2 separate regions of the Homo sapiens genome follow, and region 1 is linked to region 2. The links come from fine-mapping of genetic effects on gene expression. Tissue or cell type: esophagus muscle. Region 2 holds a variant in brackets; the other region holds the start of a gene. All regions are shown on one strand. Distances are between the middles of the regions.

What was found. PIP is the estimated chance that this variant, and not a neighbour inherited with it, causes the effect.
Region 1: DENND6A starts here. The variant in region 2 is fine-mapped to the expression of DENND6A in esophagus muscle (GTEx, PIP above 0.99).

What each region holds. Positions count from the first base shown.
Region 1 is chr3:57,688,171-57,696,277 of GRCh38, forward strand. DENND6A (DENN domain containing 6A) reads right to left here and starts at 4,907. Exons shown (of 20, transcript NM_152678.3): 1 at 4,612-4,907. The coding sequence starts at 4,848. It overlaps DENND6A-DT (DENND6A divergent transcript), which reads left to right and starts at 5,035. Exons shown (of 2, transcript NR_135550.1): 1 at 5,035-5,172; 2 at 5,646-8,107. RefSeq lists an enhancer at 4,235-4,735 and silencers at 4,457-4,696, 4,807-4,906.
Region 2 is chr3:57,546,817-57,554,923 of GRCh38, forward strand. It overlaps a transcript of DNAH12 not described here and the pseudogene RNU6-483P. Among named protein-coding and RNA genes, the nearest start is that of PDE12, 5.4 kb to the right of the region's middle. The variant A/G (reference allele first, on the strand shown) is at 4,634.

The DNA of each region.
Region 1 (8,107 bases), 140 kb after region 2:
TTTTTATTAGAGATGGGGTTTTACCATGTTGGCTACGGCGGTCTCGAACTCCTGACCTCAAGTGATCCACGCGCCTCAGCCTCCCAAAGTGCTTGGATTACAGGCATGAGCCACCACACTCGGCTTATTAAGAGTCTAATCATCTTACAAACTGTTTATGAGAATATTTATGAATAAAAGCAGACTCACAGTAGACATGTTTAGGAGACTGCTGCCCAGACTATGCTTTGGAAGTGTCCCTCCTATTGCAGGGGTGAGCCTAAGTGACTGCTACTGCTAGCGAAACCTTGTCTCCTAACCACAAGTGAACAAAATGGGACACCTGTCCCATGCTGAGCCAATCAGATACTCCAATATTAAGCTTCAGCCTCATTCCAGAAAAAGAGTTTGGCTAAAATTAGTACCATGGAAACCCAAAGTCAAGCAGAGTAACGGGGGAGCAGAAACTGAGGCCACTGCAGCACAAACCAGCTTCAGCATGGAGAAAAGAACAGACATGCAAAGACCAAAGACAAAAAAAAACACACAGCTCCAGAGACAAAGGCCTGGGGCTTTCCAAATCCCACAGGTTCATCCTTGCTTCCCACACACTTGGATTCCAAAAGACTGCCTGGAATCCTTACAATCACTGTCCCTTTACTTAAGTTTATTTGAGGTTTCTGTTCCTAACAATCAAGTTAATCCTTGACAGATACAAAATTATATAAAGAAAAAAAGTATTAACAAAAATGCCGAATATTAATAGCAGTTGCCTCTTAGTAGAATTAAGAGTGATATTTTCTAGTGTTTATAATTTTTCTTTTTTTTTGAGACAAAGTCTTGCTGTGTCGCCAGGCTGGAGTGCAGTGGCCCGATCTTACTGCAACCTCCACCTCCCAGGTTCAAGCGATTCTCCTGCCTCACCCTCCCGAGTAGCTGGGACTACAGGTGTATGCCACTGCGCCCAGCTGATTTTTGTATTTTTAGTAGAGACGGGGTTTCACCGTGTTGGCCAGGGTGGTCTCGATCTCTTGACCTCGTGATCTGCCCGCCTCGGCCTCCCAAAGTGCTGGAATTACAGGCATGAGCCGCCATGCCCGGCCTAGTGTTTATGATTTCTTTACTTGCCAAGTTTTCAGCAATGAGTATGTTATTATTCACTCAGAAAAAAAAAAAAAACTTGAATAAATAAGGTAATTCTGTATTCGGATAATTAAGGCTTTACTAAATAATTGGTAATTTCAAAGCTAAAAGTGAGGTACAGTATATCAAACCCAGGAGGTTTCAAACCTTGTTCCAGAGGACACTTTGATTCTGTGGTAATGCCTCCAGAGCCACTTCAGGGGAAAAGAAGCTCAGCACACCCCCTGCAGTCAACACCTTGTTCAGTTTCTTCCTAGCTCAAAGACCTCCTTAACCCCCTTCACTTAGGACAGGGCCTTAAAAGACATTTTATGCAAGGTGAACCACTCCCCCTTCTACTCAGGGCTTTAGCCAATTGTATCAGAGTAGGAACCTGCCCCAAACCAGGCCAGATTATCTTCCTCTGGCTTTGGAAGTGAGTTAAAGATTCACTCTTTTTCACTGAAGTGGCTAAAAACGTTAGCTTCTCACCTTAAAGATCAGAGAAGGGCTGGGCATGGTGGCTCAACACCTATAATCCCAGCACTTTGGAAGACAGAGGCAGCAGGACAGTTTGAGGCTACAAGTTTGAGACCAGCCTGGGCAACATAGCAAGACCCTGTCCCCACAAAAAAAATTAAAAATAGCCGGGTGTAGTGGTGCATGTCTGTATTCATAGATACTCAGGAGGATCCCTCGAGTTTAGGAGTTCGAGGTTGTAGTGAGTTATGATCATGCCACTGCACTCCAATCTGAGGCAGACCATGTCTCTAAGGAAAAAAAAAAAAAAAAGTCAGGTGCGGTGGCTCACGCCTGTAATCCCAGCACTTTGGGAGGCTGAGGCAGGTGTATCACTTGAGGTCAGGAGTTCAAGACCAGCCTGGCCAACATGGTGAAACCCTGTCTCTACTAAAAAAAACAAAAAAACAAAAAAAACAAAATTAGCTGGGCAGGCCAGGCGCGGTGGCTCATGCCTGTAATCCCAGCACTTTGGGAGGCTGAGGTGGGCAGATCACACTGTCAGGAGATCGAGACCATCCTGGCTAACACGGTGAAACCCCGTCTCTATTAAAAATACAAAAAATTAGCCGGGCGTGGTGCGGGTGCCTGTAGTCCCAGCAACTTGGGAGGCTGAGGCAGGAGAATGGCGTGAACCTGGGAGGCGGAGCTTGCAGGGAGGCGGAGCTTGCAGGGAGACGAGATTGCCCCACTGCACTCCAGCCTGGGCAACAGAGCAAGACTCTCTCTCTCAAAAAACAAAAATTAGCTGGGCATGGTGACATGCACCTGTAGTCCCAGCTACTTGGCAGGCTGAGGCAGGAGAATCACTTGAACCTGGGAGGTGGAGGTTGCAGTGAGCCGAAATTACACCACTGCACTCCAGCCTGGCTGACAAAGTTAGACTCTGTCTTTAAAAAAAAAAAAAAAAATCAGAGAAGGGGAAGAAGGCAGTTTGCAGGGAACATGAAATATAAACAAGATCTGCACACAAAAAAAGAGCAAAACCAAGAGGTTTCCCTGGTTCTGAACTCTAGCCATTTTCTGAAGCCCTACTAGGTTTATGTCTTAAATAGCTGGAAACCACATATATGGAACCACATACATGATTTCATCTTACTCAGCCTTTTCCTAGTGGAAAATTCACAATGTTCATATTTTTAAAAGATCCAGGAAGCAAAAGGTTAAGAACTCCTGACCTAGAAAAAACTCTATACAGTGGCATACACTATGGAAAATGAAATTCAAAATAAGTCCTTTAATAATTCACATTTTTGCAGCATCTCAAATATATTTTCTGTTTATTTGGTCAAAAAACATATTCACGTTATAAAGAATGTCCCAAATAATGAGAATCCAAAAGAATCTCCTTTAGCTATTTAAAAACACAATCAACTACAACAACCCATTCTTATGCTTTCTGGTTAAATTGTATCTTGCTGTACATATAACTTCAGGTTAACATGGCAAGGTGAATAATAAATGGCTTATAAATCTCTTACTCAAAATCTTTGGGAACTGTTTTTCTTACTTTAATAAGATAAAGAATTGCTCACATATTCACCTATTCTATCAAAAGTATTTATAGAATGCCACTAGGTGCCAGGCACTGCATTTGGCCTTATCAGCTACTATGATTAATTCTTGGTTCTCCTCTAAATTATTGCCTCAATCTACAAATACAGATTAGAGCACATCCTATTTGTATGCTCCACAACTAACATAATGCCTGGTTCTTAGTGGAAACTTAATGTCGCTGAACTGTGTTATAATAAAACATCCAGAAGGCAGGCCGAATACGAAAGCAGTAGCTTCGCATTAAGAAAACTACCCCTAGCCAATTTTCTTAGTCAACCAGGCCACTACAGTATTAATGAAATCGAAATCTGTCACCAATACCAAAAAAAAAAAAAAAAAAAAAAAACCAAAACCAAAACGTCTAAACAAACGCCCTTCTGATAACAATTTCCTTGGACACATGAAAGCAAGCAATTCCTTATGCTAAAAAGACCTTCAACAACGTCAAGAATAGATGTTTCTAAAGCCTTTCGGTAAGGGGCCATACATAAGAATGGAAAAGTTGACTGATTGACAAGCAAATGATGTTCCCTATATTCATCTTGACAGTAGTTTCACACCAACTGTTCCAGAGGCAACATAAAAAAAAATAACAGAAATGAGGCCGGGCACGGTGGCTCACGCATGTAATCCCACCACTTTGGAAGGCCTAGGCGGGCAGACCACCTGAGTCGGGAGTTCGAGACCAGCCTTACCAAAATGGAGAAACCCCGTCTCTATTAAAAATACAAAATTAGCCGGGCATGGTCGCATGCCTGTAACCCCAGCTACTCGGGAGGCTGAGGCAGGAGAATTGCCTGAATCCGGGAGGCAGAGGTTGCGGTGAGCCAAGATCGCGCCATTGCACTCCAGCCTGAGCAACAAGAGCAAAAACTCCGTCTCAAAAAAAAAAAAAAAAAAAAACAGAAATGAGGCACAAAAGGAGGAAAGGGAGAAAATGCGTGCTGAGATAAGCATTTCGACTCAGGCTGAGGGAAACGCTCAAACAGTTACTGCAAATGACTAAAACAATCTGAGCCTTAAAACTTGGTTGTGCAAGTTCGGCTACTAGAGTTCATCATCTGTTATGGGCATTGTTCTTGAAAAAGTACCAAACAAACATCCTGCCTGCGGGCTTCTCCGGGTGGGTGCTACTAACCCTTTTAGTTAATTCTGTGACTCTGCGTTTAAAAGAAATAAAGAAAGAACAGGATGAACATCAACAAGTATTTAGGAGGGGCCTAGAGAGAACTTTTCACCCCTAGCCGCAGCCCAAGATCCTCCCACGGGAAGTGCCGTAGGACCGCAGCCCGAAAGAGCGCGGGAGGGGAGACTGGCCACGCCCGGATGCGCCGCGGACAGGGTCCTGGCCGGTCAGCCCGCGGGCCGCTGGCTTTGCTGCAGCCGCCCCGGCGCAGGGGAGGAGCGCCGAGAAAGGGCGGGGCCGGGCCTCACCTCCACGGCCTGGCCCAGCTCCAGGTCGAAGCCCACCACACACACGCAGTGCAGCCAGGCGGAGAAGCTGTCCCAGCGCAGCAGGCCCCGGCCACGGCCATCGTCCTCTTCATCGTCCTCTGGCGCGCCTCCCGCCGCCACAAGGGCCGGCGCCTCGCGGCCCTCGGCCCCTGCCACCGCTTCGTCCAACGGCCTTCGAGAGCCGGGCCCCAAGCCCGCAGGGCCCCTCAAAGCCATCGGCCGCCCCCTGACCGTTCGCGCCGCCTCCACAGCGGACCGCGCCGCAGAGCGCGCTTGCCTCCGCGCAGGCGCAGACGCTGCTGTCGCAGCCGCTGGGGACCCACTCAGTCCGGGCGGGGCTGCGGGTCACGTGACCCTGGGAGCGGACGTGGGGACGTCACGCTGCCGCTTGTCTCGGATTGTGAAGCCGGTCCTGGCTTCCTTGTCTAAAAGCTCTTTGGGACTGAAATGGCTGTTTATGAATCCTTGTCAACCTCGTTCGCAGTCAACGACCAGGGAATAAATTATTCGTGGAATGACACAGTTCATAATTATTATAAGGTATTATTAAATTATGAAAGCGTAGGCCGGGCGCGGTGGTTCACACCTGTAATCACAGCATTTTGGGAGGCCGATGCGGGCGGATCATCAGGTCAGGAGTTCGAGACCAGCCTGACCAACATGGTGAAACCCCGTCTCTACTAAAAATACGAAAAAATTAGCCAGGCGTGGTGGAGCGCGCCTGTGATCCCAGCTACTCAGGAGGCTGAGGCAGGAGAATCGCTTGAACCCAGGAGGTTACAGTTAGCTGAGATTGCGCCACTGTATTCTGTCTACCCTGGGCGACAGAGCGAGATTCCGTCTCAAAAAAATAAAAATAAAATATATGAACGCATAATGGTGACGGTGGCTAACATTGAACGCTTACTTTGTGCCAGTTGATATGCCAAGTACAAGTGCGAATACTTACAAATATTACCTTATTGAATCTTCACATAATCGCAAATAAGTAGACTATTTATTTCTTTTTACAGATAAGGAAATGGAGGTCCTGGAGGTTACATGACTAGCCCAACAAGTATGACAACTCCGATATCGGCTTGCGGTTCACTCATTCAGTTTGCTGATTCAGAGATCTGTGCATTCACTCACCTGTTCCTTCTCCAGCAAGGCCTCCCCACCCTACCACCTCCTCCTTTCTTAGTTTGGCTGTCTGTGACTCACTCAACACACATCCCCAGACCTTTCTGGAACTCCAGGTTGGGCAGATTGGCCTCCACAGCAACCTGTGGATCTCTGAACACTGGGGCAAGGGCCTGGTCTCAAGCAGCTTCGTATTCTGAGATCAGTTTTTACTGAGTATTGGACCAGCCAGGATACTAACTAGTATTTATTCAGCACCTACTATGTTGAGTATAAATAGCATAGTAAAAGTAGGAAACACACAATAATACCTCAACAGAAAAATGAGTAAACCAGCGAGGTGTCACGCCTGTAGTCCCAGGTTCTTGGGAAGCTGAGGCCGGCTAAGTTCAAGGAGGATCGCTTGAGCAGGAGTTCCAGGCTGCAGCGCGCTATGATCGCGCCTGCGAACAGCCATTGCACTCCAGCCTGGGCAACAGAGCGCGACTGTGTCTCTAAAAAACAACGCAAAACAAAAAACACGGCAGAACTTAAGCATTTTGCTGCACTGCCCAGTGAAATCCATTCCATTTGACAAATACTGCCCTCTTAACATTCTTAGAATTTTTTTTTGGAGCAAGTGTTAGCGTCCCTGTTTTCAAGGAGGTGGTCAAGTATGCACAGACATCAGTAGTGACGTTTGCTGGAGACTTCCTTTAGACAAAAATGAACTTAGGGACAGCACTTAAGTTAGAGGCCAAGTCTTTGGCCAAAGTAGCCTGCCATCCTACTCCAGAGAACTGCTGTGGTTAAAAGAGGAAAAACTGTATTCTGCGATCAAGTAAGGCTCTAAACCCAGTATTAGGAAAGAACAGTAGCCTTTTGTATTAGAAAGAACACTGGCGTGGAAGTCAAAAGTTCTGGATTCTAGTGCCAGCTAGAATCTACCACGATCGTGGTAGGCAAGCTGCTCCAAAACCCAGTTTCTGGTAAATGAGAGTGATGATTACTAACTCACCTCACTGACTGTTGGGAAAAGCTAAGCTATCCTAATGTACACATTTTACCAGATGCTACTTCATTATTAATTATTAATGATCTCAAAACACCAGTTGTGGCCAAGCACAGTGGGTCACACCTGTAATCCCAGCACGTTGGGAGGCTGAGGCGGTAGAATCACGTGAGTCCAGGAGTTTGAGACCAGCCTGGGCAACATAGGGAGGCCCCGTCTCTTAAAAAAAAATTAAAAATTAGCTGGGCATGGTGGCACACACCTATAATTCCAGCTACTTGAGAGGCTGAGATAGGAGAATCACTGGAACCCAGAAGGTCAAGGCTGCAATGAGCCATCACTGTGCTACTCTACTCCAGCCTGGGCAACACAGCAAGACCCTGTGTCAAAAACCAGCACCAAAAAAGAACATAAGTTGTTCCACAGGGCTGGTTCTTCGACACATAGACACAAACTGCGATTCTGTGAAGTGTTGCTTTATAATATTGGGTTAAGGAGAAGGTCAAGGCTGCAGTGAGCCATCACTGTGCCACTCTACTCCAGCCTGGGCAACACAGCAAGACCCTGTGTCAAAAACCAGCACCAAAAAAGAACATAAGTTGTTCCACAGGGCTGGTTCTTCGACGCATAGACACAAACTGCGATTCTGTGAAGTGTTGCTTTATAATATTGGGTTAAGGATGATCTTGTCAAAATACAGTACCCTGAAAACAACATATTAGGAGAGCCAGAAGTTTCCAAAGAAAGAAAGCACACCAAAGCTCTAGAGAATTTTGAAAGTAAAAAACTTGTTTGGGGAGAAAAAAAACAAAAACAGAAAAAAGCATTACTTAAATCTTTATACACAGAAACAGAATAACCACTAGGGTAAACAAAGCAGCTATGGCTTTATTTCCCTCTACCTTCGTAACTTTGACATTCTGCCTTACAGTCTATTTTCACACAGTTTCTGTTGTTAATGGGAGCTGAGGAACAAGGTACTGACACCTTCTTATGGTTCATCAAAAGAACCTTTGACTCTGAAAGGATCTTGGATAGGATCATCTCTCCAAACTTCCTATTCATGGATCTTCTGACATTCAGTTAGCCAGCCTCTTTTCTAACACTCTCTATTAAAGTTAAGTCACTAGCCTGTGATCCCAGCACTTTGGGAGGCCAAGGCCGGTGGATCACCTGAGGTCAGGAGTTCCAGACCAGCCTGGCCATCATGGTGAAATCCTGTCTCTAGTGAAAATACAAAAATTAGCCAGGTGTGGTGGTGCACACCTGTAATCCCAGCTACTTGGGAGGCTGAGGTGGGAGGATCCTCTGATCTGGGGAGGCAGAGGTGACAGTGAGCTGAGATCACACCACTGCACTCCA
Region 2 (8,107 bases):
TCCTGGGTGAGCCTGACTCAATCAGTAGAAATCCTTTTAAAAAGATTTAGGCCTGGCAAAGTGGATCAACCCTGTAATCCCAGCACCTTAGGAGGCCGAGCCAGACAGACTTCTTGAGGGAGTTTGAGACCAGCCTGGGCAACATGGTGTAACTCTGTCTCTATTTTAAAAAATTAAAAATTAAAAAAATAATAATAAAGAGATGGGCATGCCCTGAGTCAAACTCCAAACAGCAGCTGGGTCTATAACTGCTCTCCATTTTCTGGTTCTTCCCTTCCTGACAGATAGTCTGCCCTACAGACCATGGACTTGGTTAACCAGCCCCCTCCATTGCATAAGCCAATTCTTTGTTTAAAAAAATATATATATATGTATAGACATACACACACACATATATAGATATAGATATAGATATAGATATAGATGATATGTATTATATCTTAGTGGTTCTGCTTCCCACTTTGAACCCTGACTGATACAATGTACGTCCTTTTTTTTTTTACTTTAAAAAAAAATTTTATTATAGAGACAAAGTCTCACAATGTTGGCCAGGATGGTCTTGAACTCCTGGCCTCAAGCAATCCTCCTGCCTTGGCCTCTAGATGTGCTAGGATTACAGGTGTGAGCCACCACGCCTGGCCGATGTACATCCTTTTTAATAGCCAATGTTTCCAAAAGTGTGTTCTTTTACAAGAACAGATTCCTCTTGAGCTTATACAAATAAATAATATTGCCATAAAACAAGAATACTCATGAATAGTTTCCTAATTCTGGAGATATCAGGTAGAGAGAAAGATAAATATTTCAATTTTACTCACAAAATATACCAAAAAGTTACCAAATTGCTATAAAACTACAGATAATGCAGAGAAAAAAAGTTTTCTTAACTCTGAAAGAAAATAATAATAAAAAGCAACGTTTCAAGCAAAAAAGTCATTAAAATCATTTCAGTCCTCATCAGTTCCGTCCCATGTAATTAATTTTTGTTCTACTTGATAAATTAGCAATTTTAAGTCCAGTTTTTACCATTGGAGTTTCTCAAGTTCTTATTCAGTCCAACTTAATAATCAACAGAGGCCTGTATTCCAGAGTATGTATCAGACTTTTTATCCTTCTCATAAACCTCTTTGAAGACACAATGCTTTAGGATTATATTTGCTTGCAAAGATCATTTAGAAAAAACATTAGAATAAAGCAATTTACTACGAACAACAAGATTTAGAATGGCTATGGTGAAAGACCTGGTAAGAGTTTACAACAATGATGCGATTGACAAGGAAATTTGTTTTTTTCTGTAGTCTATAACAAGTTTACATAGTAGCCATAATTATGACTGATAACATACAAAAAGACACATCAGACTTTTAGGAATCTCATATACTTTTAAAACACATATTAATAACATGTTCATATAAATGTAATGCAAAGGTTTCCTGTATAATTTACATATCAAATAAGCCTAATACGTCTCTCTTAGGCTTCCAGGGGCCATTCTGGGATAACCTAAGGTTAGTTTGAGGCCGAAAAGACTTAATTTAGAATTTGAAATTTGACTTTGGGAAGCCTGTCAAGTATGTCAAAGGATAAAAACACTCAATTAAAATAGAAAAGGCCAGGCTCAGTGGCTCAAACTTGTAATCCCAGCACTTTGGAAGGCTGAGGTGGAAAGATCACTTGAGCCCTGGAGTTTGAGATCAGACTGGGCAACATCAGGGGACTCTGTCTCTACAGAATATTTCTTAGCCAGGCGTTGGTGGTGTGCACTTGTGGGCCCAGCTACTTGGCAGACTGAGGGGGGAGGATCACTTGAGCCTAGGAGGTCGAGGCTGCAGTAAGCCATTACTGCACCACTGCACTCCAGCCTGGGTGACAGAGTGAGACACGGTCTCAAAAAAATTGTTTTTAAATGAAAACAAACGAGGAAAGTTTTAAGACATTTGATCAAAAGAAGATCATAGGTCACTGTAAAATAACAGTTATTCATTTAGCCAAAGTGAAAATTTAAAAGATTTTACAAAGCAGTGCTCATTTCGGCAGCACATAATATTAAAACTGAAATGATACAGAAAAGATTACCATGGTGCCTGCATAAGGATGACACACAAATTTGTGAAGCATTCCATAGTTTTTTTAAAAAAAGATTTTATAAAGCAAAATCCTTCACTTTTTCATAGAGAGAAGACTCAGTTTTCCAAATAATGAAAAGATCTAACAAAGAGAGCAGGGCCGGATGCAGTGGCCTGTGCCCATAATTCCAGGTACTCAGGAGGCCAAGGTGGGAGGATCACTTGAGCTCAGGAGTTCAAGGCTGCAGTGAGCTATTATGGCTGCACTTGTGAATAGCCAATGCACTCCAGCCTGGGCAACAGAGTGAGACTATGTTTATAAAAAATATTTTTAATTAAAAAATTTAATCAGGCCAGGTGCAGTGGGCCACAGCTGTAATCCCAGCACTTTAGGAGATTGAGGCAGGCAAATCACTTGAGGTCAGGAGTTCGAGACCAGCCTGGCCAACATGGTGAAACCCCGTCTCTACCAAAAAATACGAAAATTAGCCAGGCATGGTGGTGCGCGCCTGTAGTCCCAGCTACTTGGGAGGCTGACGTGGGAGAATCGCTTGAACCCAGGAGATGGAGGTTGCAGTGAGCCAAGATCATGCCACTGCACTCCAGCCTGGGCAACAGAGTAAGACCCAAAAAATTTTTTTAAAAATTGTTTAAAGACAGCATGAGGCACACAATCTGTTTCTCTCTCTCTCTCTTCTTTCTTTTGCAATTTACTCAAAAAGTGAACAAAATCTTTTACTATATTTTATTTTATTTTTTGAGACAGGGTCTGGCTCTGTCACCCAGGCTGGAGTGCAATGGCGCAATCTCAGCTCACTGCGACTTCAGCCTCCCAGGCTCAAATCATCCTCCCACCTCAGCCTCCAGAGTAGCTAGGACTACAGGCATGAACCACCATGCCCAGCTAATTTTTGTATTTTTGGTAGAGACAGGGTTTTGCCATGTTGCCCAGGCTGGTCTCAAACTCCTGGGCTTATGCAGTCCTTCTGCCTTGGCCTCCCAAAGTGCTGGGATTACAGGTGTGAGCCACCATACCTGGCTTACTATCTTTTATTAATACCACCAGAAAATCATGTTCAAATGAGAGAACCAAATTTAGTTTTGTATCAGTGTATTACTAAAGCAAATTTCAATAAAACCATAAGGCCAGGCATGGTGGTTCACGCCTGTAATCCCAACACTCTGGGAGGCCAAGGTGGGAAGATCTCTTGAGGCCAGGAGTGCAAGACCAGCCTAGGCAACACAGCTAGCGAGACCCCATCTCTACAAAAAAAAGTTTTTTTAATTAGCCAGGCATGGCTACATACCTGTAGTCCTAACCACCTGGGAGACTGAGGCAAGAGGATTGCTTGAGCCCAGAAATTTGAGATTACAAATGAACTATGACGACACCACCATACACCAGCCTGGGTCACAGATCAAGACCCTGCTTTTAAAAACAAAACAAAACAAAACAAACAATGAATAAATAAATATTAATAATAAAACCTTATAAACAAATAGATCCAGTCTCAGTCAACTTTGACCACATAAGAAATCCATAAGCCTTTTATAACCTCTTACAGTTTTTAAATTTTTTCTCCAACTTTTTATATCCGTTTATTTTTGTATACATTTTTCCATACATTTATTTTTATTTTTATTTTTTGAGACAGAGTCTCACTCTGCCACCCAGGCTGGAGTGCAGTGGTGCAATCTTGGCTCACTGCAACTTCCCCCTCCCGGGTTCAAGCGATTCTCCTGCCTCAGCTTCCCAAGCAGCTGGGACTACAGGCACGTACCACGACGCCCAGCTAAATTTTTTTTTTTTCTGTATTTTTAATAGAGATGGGGTTTCACCATGCTAGCCAGGCTAGTCTCAGAGTCCTGACCTCAGGTGATCCACCCGCCCTGGCCTCCCAAAGTGCCATATATTTATTCTAAGACAATCTTTAAATAACCTTTAATTAGGCAAAAGTTTTTCATTTTTTTTGTTATTGTTTCAGTGGCTAGAAACAATTTTTTTTTTTTTTTTGAGATGGAGTCTCGCTCTGTCGCTGAGGCTGGAGTGCAGTGGCGCAATCTCGGCTCACTGCAAGCTCCGCTTCCTGGGTTCACACCATTCTCCTGCCTCAGCCTCCCGAGTAGCTGGGACTACATGCCCAGCTAATTTCTTTTGTATTTTTAGTAGAGATGGGGTTTCACCGTGTTAGCCAGGATGGCCTCGATCTCCTGACCTTGTGATCCACCCGCCTCAGTCTCCCAAAGTGCTGGGATTACAGGCGTGAGCCACCGTGCCCAGCCAAAACAAAAATTTTTAAACAAAAGCACATATACTCATGACTTAACTTTTCCTCACTAAAAAGATATGTTGTTTTTATCGTACTCTGTATACAAAATTATTTATTTATTTATTTATTTATTTTTTGAGATGGAGTCTCGCTCTGTCGCCCAGGTTGGAGTGCAGTGGCGCGATCTCGGCTCACTGCAAGCTCCGCCTCCCGGGTTCACACCATTCTCCTGCCTCAGCCTCCCTAGTAGCTGGGACTACAGGCACCCACGACCACGCCCTGCTAATTTTTTGTATT[A/G]TTAGTAGAGACGGGGTTTCGCCGTGTTAGCCAGGATGGTCTCAATCTCCTGACCTCGTGATCCGCCCGCCTTGGCTCCCAAAGTGCTGGGATTACAGGCATTAGCCACCGCGCCCGGCCACAAAATTATTTCTTACTTTCAGTAGTTTTAATTACATATATTACTTTGAATTTTAACTCTTAGTAACCCTAATTTCTAGTGACAACCCAGGAAGTCAGTAATTTTGAATTGTTTTATATCAGTATTTGCAGACAACAGCCACTTAATAATTTCTAAAAAGATATGTTTTCTCAAAGTGTTATTAATGAATCCAAATATATTTAGCTTTCTATATCATATGAAACAAGACATCAAAAAAATGAAAAAAAAACAGAACTTGAGAATAAGTGGGAAAAATGAAAAAAAGACATCAAAGTATATAAACTTAAGTTTAATAATTAATGTTTCAGTATTTTCACTTAGAAATAACTCAGACATTTTACTTTTTTTTTTTTTTAAGAGATGGGGTCTCGGGCCAGGCATGGTGGTTCACGCCTGTAATCCCAGCACTTTGGGAGGCTGAGGTGGGCATATCATGAGGTCAAGAGATCGAGACCATCCTGGCTAACACGGTGAAACCCTGTCTCTACTAAAAAATACAAAAAATTAGCTGGGCATGGTGGCAGGTGCCTGCAGTCCCAGCTACTCAGGAGGCTGAGGCAGGAGAATGGCATGAACCCAGGAGGCAGAGCTTGCAGTGAGCCGAGATCACGCCACTGCACTCCAGCCTGGGCGACAGAGCAAGACTCCATCTCAAAAAAAAAAAAAAGAGATGGGGTCTCACTATGTTGCCCAGGGCTCAAACAATCCTCCCGTCTCAGCCTCCCAAAGTGCTGGGATTACAGGCATGAGCCATTGTGCTCAGCCAATGCGGACAATTTATAATTATCTATTACTTCATTTAATACAGCATGACTTTAAGATTTTAAATTACTGAAAAAGTTTTGGAAACTATGACAAGTTTATTTGTAGATGCTTATCCCATTCACAGTTATCTAATTTACTTGTTCTTAACAACTGTATTTCATTTGCTTATGGAAAGCAAAACTAGCCATTTATGTTATTTATTTATTTATTTATTTTCATTAAGCCCCTTCCATTCTAGAAAGTTATTTATTTTGAAAAAACAAAGCCACCAGGTATAGTGTCTCATCTCATACTGCTAATCTCAGCCCTTTGGGAGGCTGAGGCAGGTGGATCGCTTGAGCCCAGGAGTTTGAGACCAGCTTGGGCAACATAGTGGGATCCCCCATCTCTACAACAAATAAAAAACAATTAGTTGGGTGTAGTTGCGTGTACCTAAAGTAGGAGACCAAGGAGTTCAAGGCTCCAGTGAACTATTATGTTGCCACTGCACTCCAGCCTGGGTGACAGAATGAGACCCTGTCTTAAAAAAATAAAAAGTGGCTGGGCGTGGTGGCTCATGCCTATAATCCCAGCACTTTGGGAGGCCAAGGTGGGTGGATCACCTGAGGTCGGGAGTTTGAGGCCAGCCTGACCAACATGGAGAAACCCTGTCTCTACTAAAAATACAACATTAGCTGGGTGTAGTGATGCATACCTGTAATCCCCGCTACTCAGGAGGCTGAGGCAGGAGAATCGCTTGAACCCAGGAGGTGGAGGTTTTCACTGAGCCAAGATCATGCCATTGCACTCCAGCCTGGGCAAAAGGAGTGAAACTCCATCTCAAAAAATAAATAAATAAAGAGCAAAGAAAACACAAAACTAACCTAACCCTGCATCAGCCAGTCTCATCTTAACCAAGGCCTTTCAGATATTGGACAGAGGCACTTTTCCCAATATCCCTTTGTCCTTCTCCAACCCCAGTCACCCTGTTCCTGAGTATCCATGTGGCATCCAGGACAGCTATGAAGGGCAGAGCCCATCTGTGTCCTGGATTTACATACCAGGTATAGAGCCCAGTACAGAGGATAAAGCTGTGAAGATGATGGTGGAGGTTCCAACCCCTCCCAACATGATAAGGATGCAGAGTTGCGCCAGGGAGGACAGGGCCATACTGCACTCAGCTTTACATGCAGCTGGTAGTCCAGGTGATACAGACACACACGTTTCCAGGCTTCACCATGGCCACCTGTCTAGATCTCAGAATCCAGAGGCCCAAAGCCAAAGACAAAAGCTCATATCAAAATGTGTGCAAGGTTTCAGGGGAGCCCCGCAGCCTGACCTCATAGTTTTAACTTATACACAAATCAAGCAAGTATTAAAAATATCACGGAAGCAACAGTTTTATGACTTTAAAACATCTAGCAAAGAAAGCATAAATCTGTCTGACCAATTGATGTAGGCAAAATGTCTAAATTAAATTCTGAAGATATTTCTTTTTTTTTTTTTTCCGAGACAGAGTCTTGCTGTCTCCCAAGCTGGAGGGCAGTGGCGCGATCTCGGCTCACTGCAACCTCTGCCTCCCAGGTTCAAAAGATTGTCCTGCCTCGGCCTCCTGAGTAGCTGGGATTACAGGCGAACACCACTGCGCCCGGCTAATTTTTGTATTTTTAGTAGAGACAGGGTTTCACCATGTTTAGTAGAGATAATGAAACCCCGTCTAATTTTTGTATTTTTAGTAGAGACGGCGTTTTAACATATTTAGTAGAGACAGTGAAATTCCATCTCTACTAAAAATACAAAAATTAGCCAGACATGGCAGTGCACACCTGTAATCTCAGCTACTTGGGAGGCTGAGGCATGAGAATCGCTTGAACCCGGGAGGTGGAGGCTGCAGTGAGCCGAGATCACACCACTGCACTCCAGCCTGGGTGACAGAGTGAGGCTCCATCTCAAAAATAAAAAAATAAAAAAATAATTACATGGAGGCCAATGACAATTACAGTATCAAACACCTTTTTTCTTGCAATTAAAACCAAATGTTTTTAGCTTTTCCCCTTTCAAGAAAATGAAAATTAAAGCTTTTCCATAATTGCAAGCAAAACAACTCTAATGGCCCTCTTAGAAGAAATCCAGAACTTCATACTATGGCTTAGAATGCACTACACAATTTGGTGGATGCATATCTTTCTTATCTGCTACTCTCCCCTGGTCTCACCTTACTCATCACACTGGACCTCTTTCTGGTCTACAGGTAAAGCAATTCATTCGTTCTTCAAGACCTTTTTTTGTTTTGTTTTGAGACGGAGTTTCACTCTTGTTGCCCAGGCTGGAGTGCAATGGCATGATCTCAACTCACTATGACCTCCATCTCCCAGGTTCAAGCGATTCTCCTGCCTCAGCCTCCCTAGTAGCTGGGATTACAGGTGTGCGCCACCATGCCCAGCTAATTTTTTGTATTTTTAGTAGAGACGGGGTTTCACTATGTTGGCCAGGCTGGTCTCGAACTCCTGACCTTAGGCGATCCACCCGCCTCAGCCTCCCAAAGTGCTGGGATTACAGACGTGAGCCACTGGGCCCGGCGTCTTTAA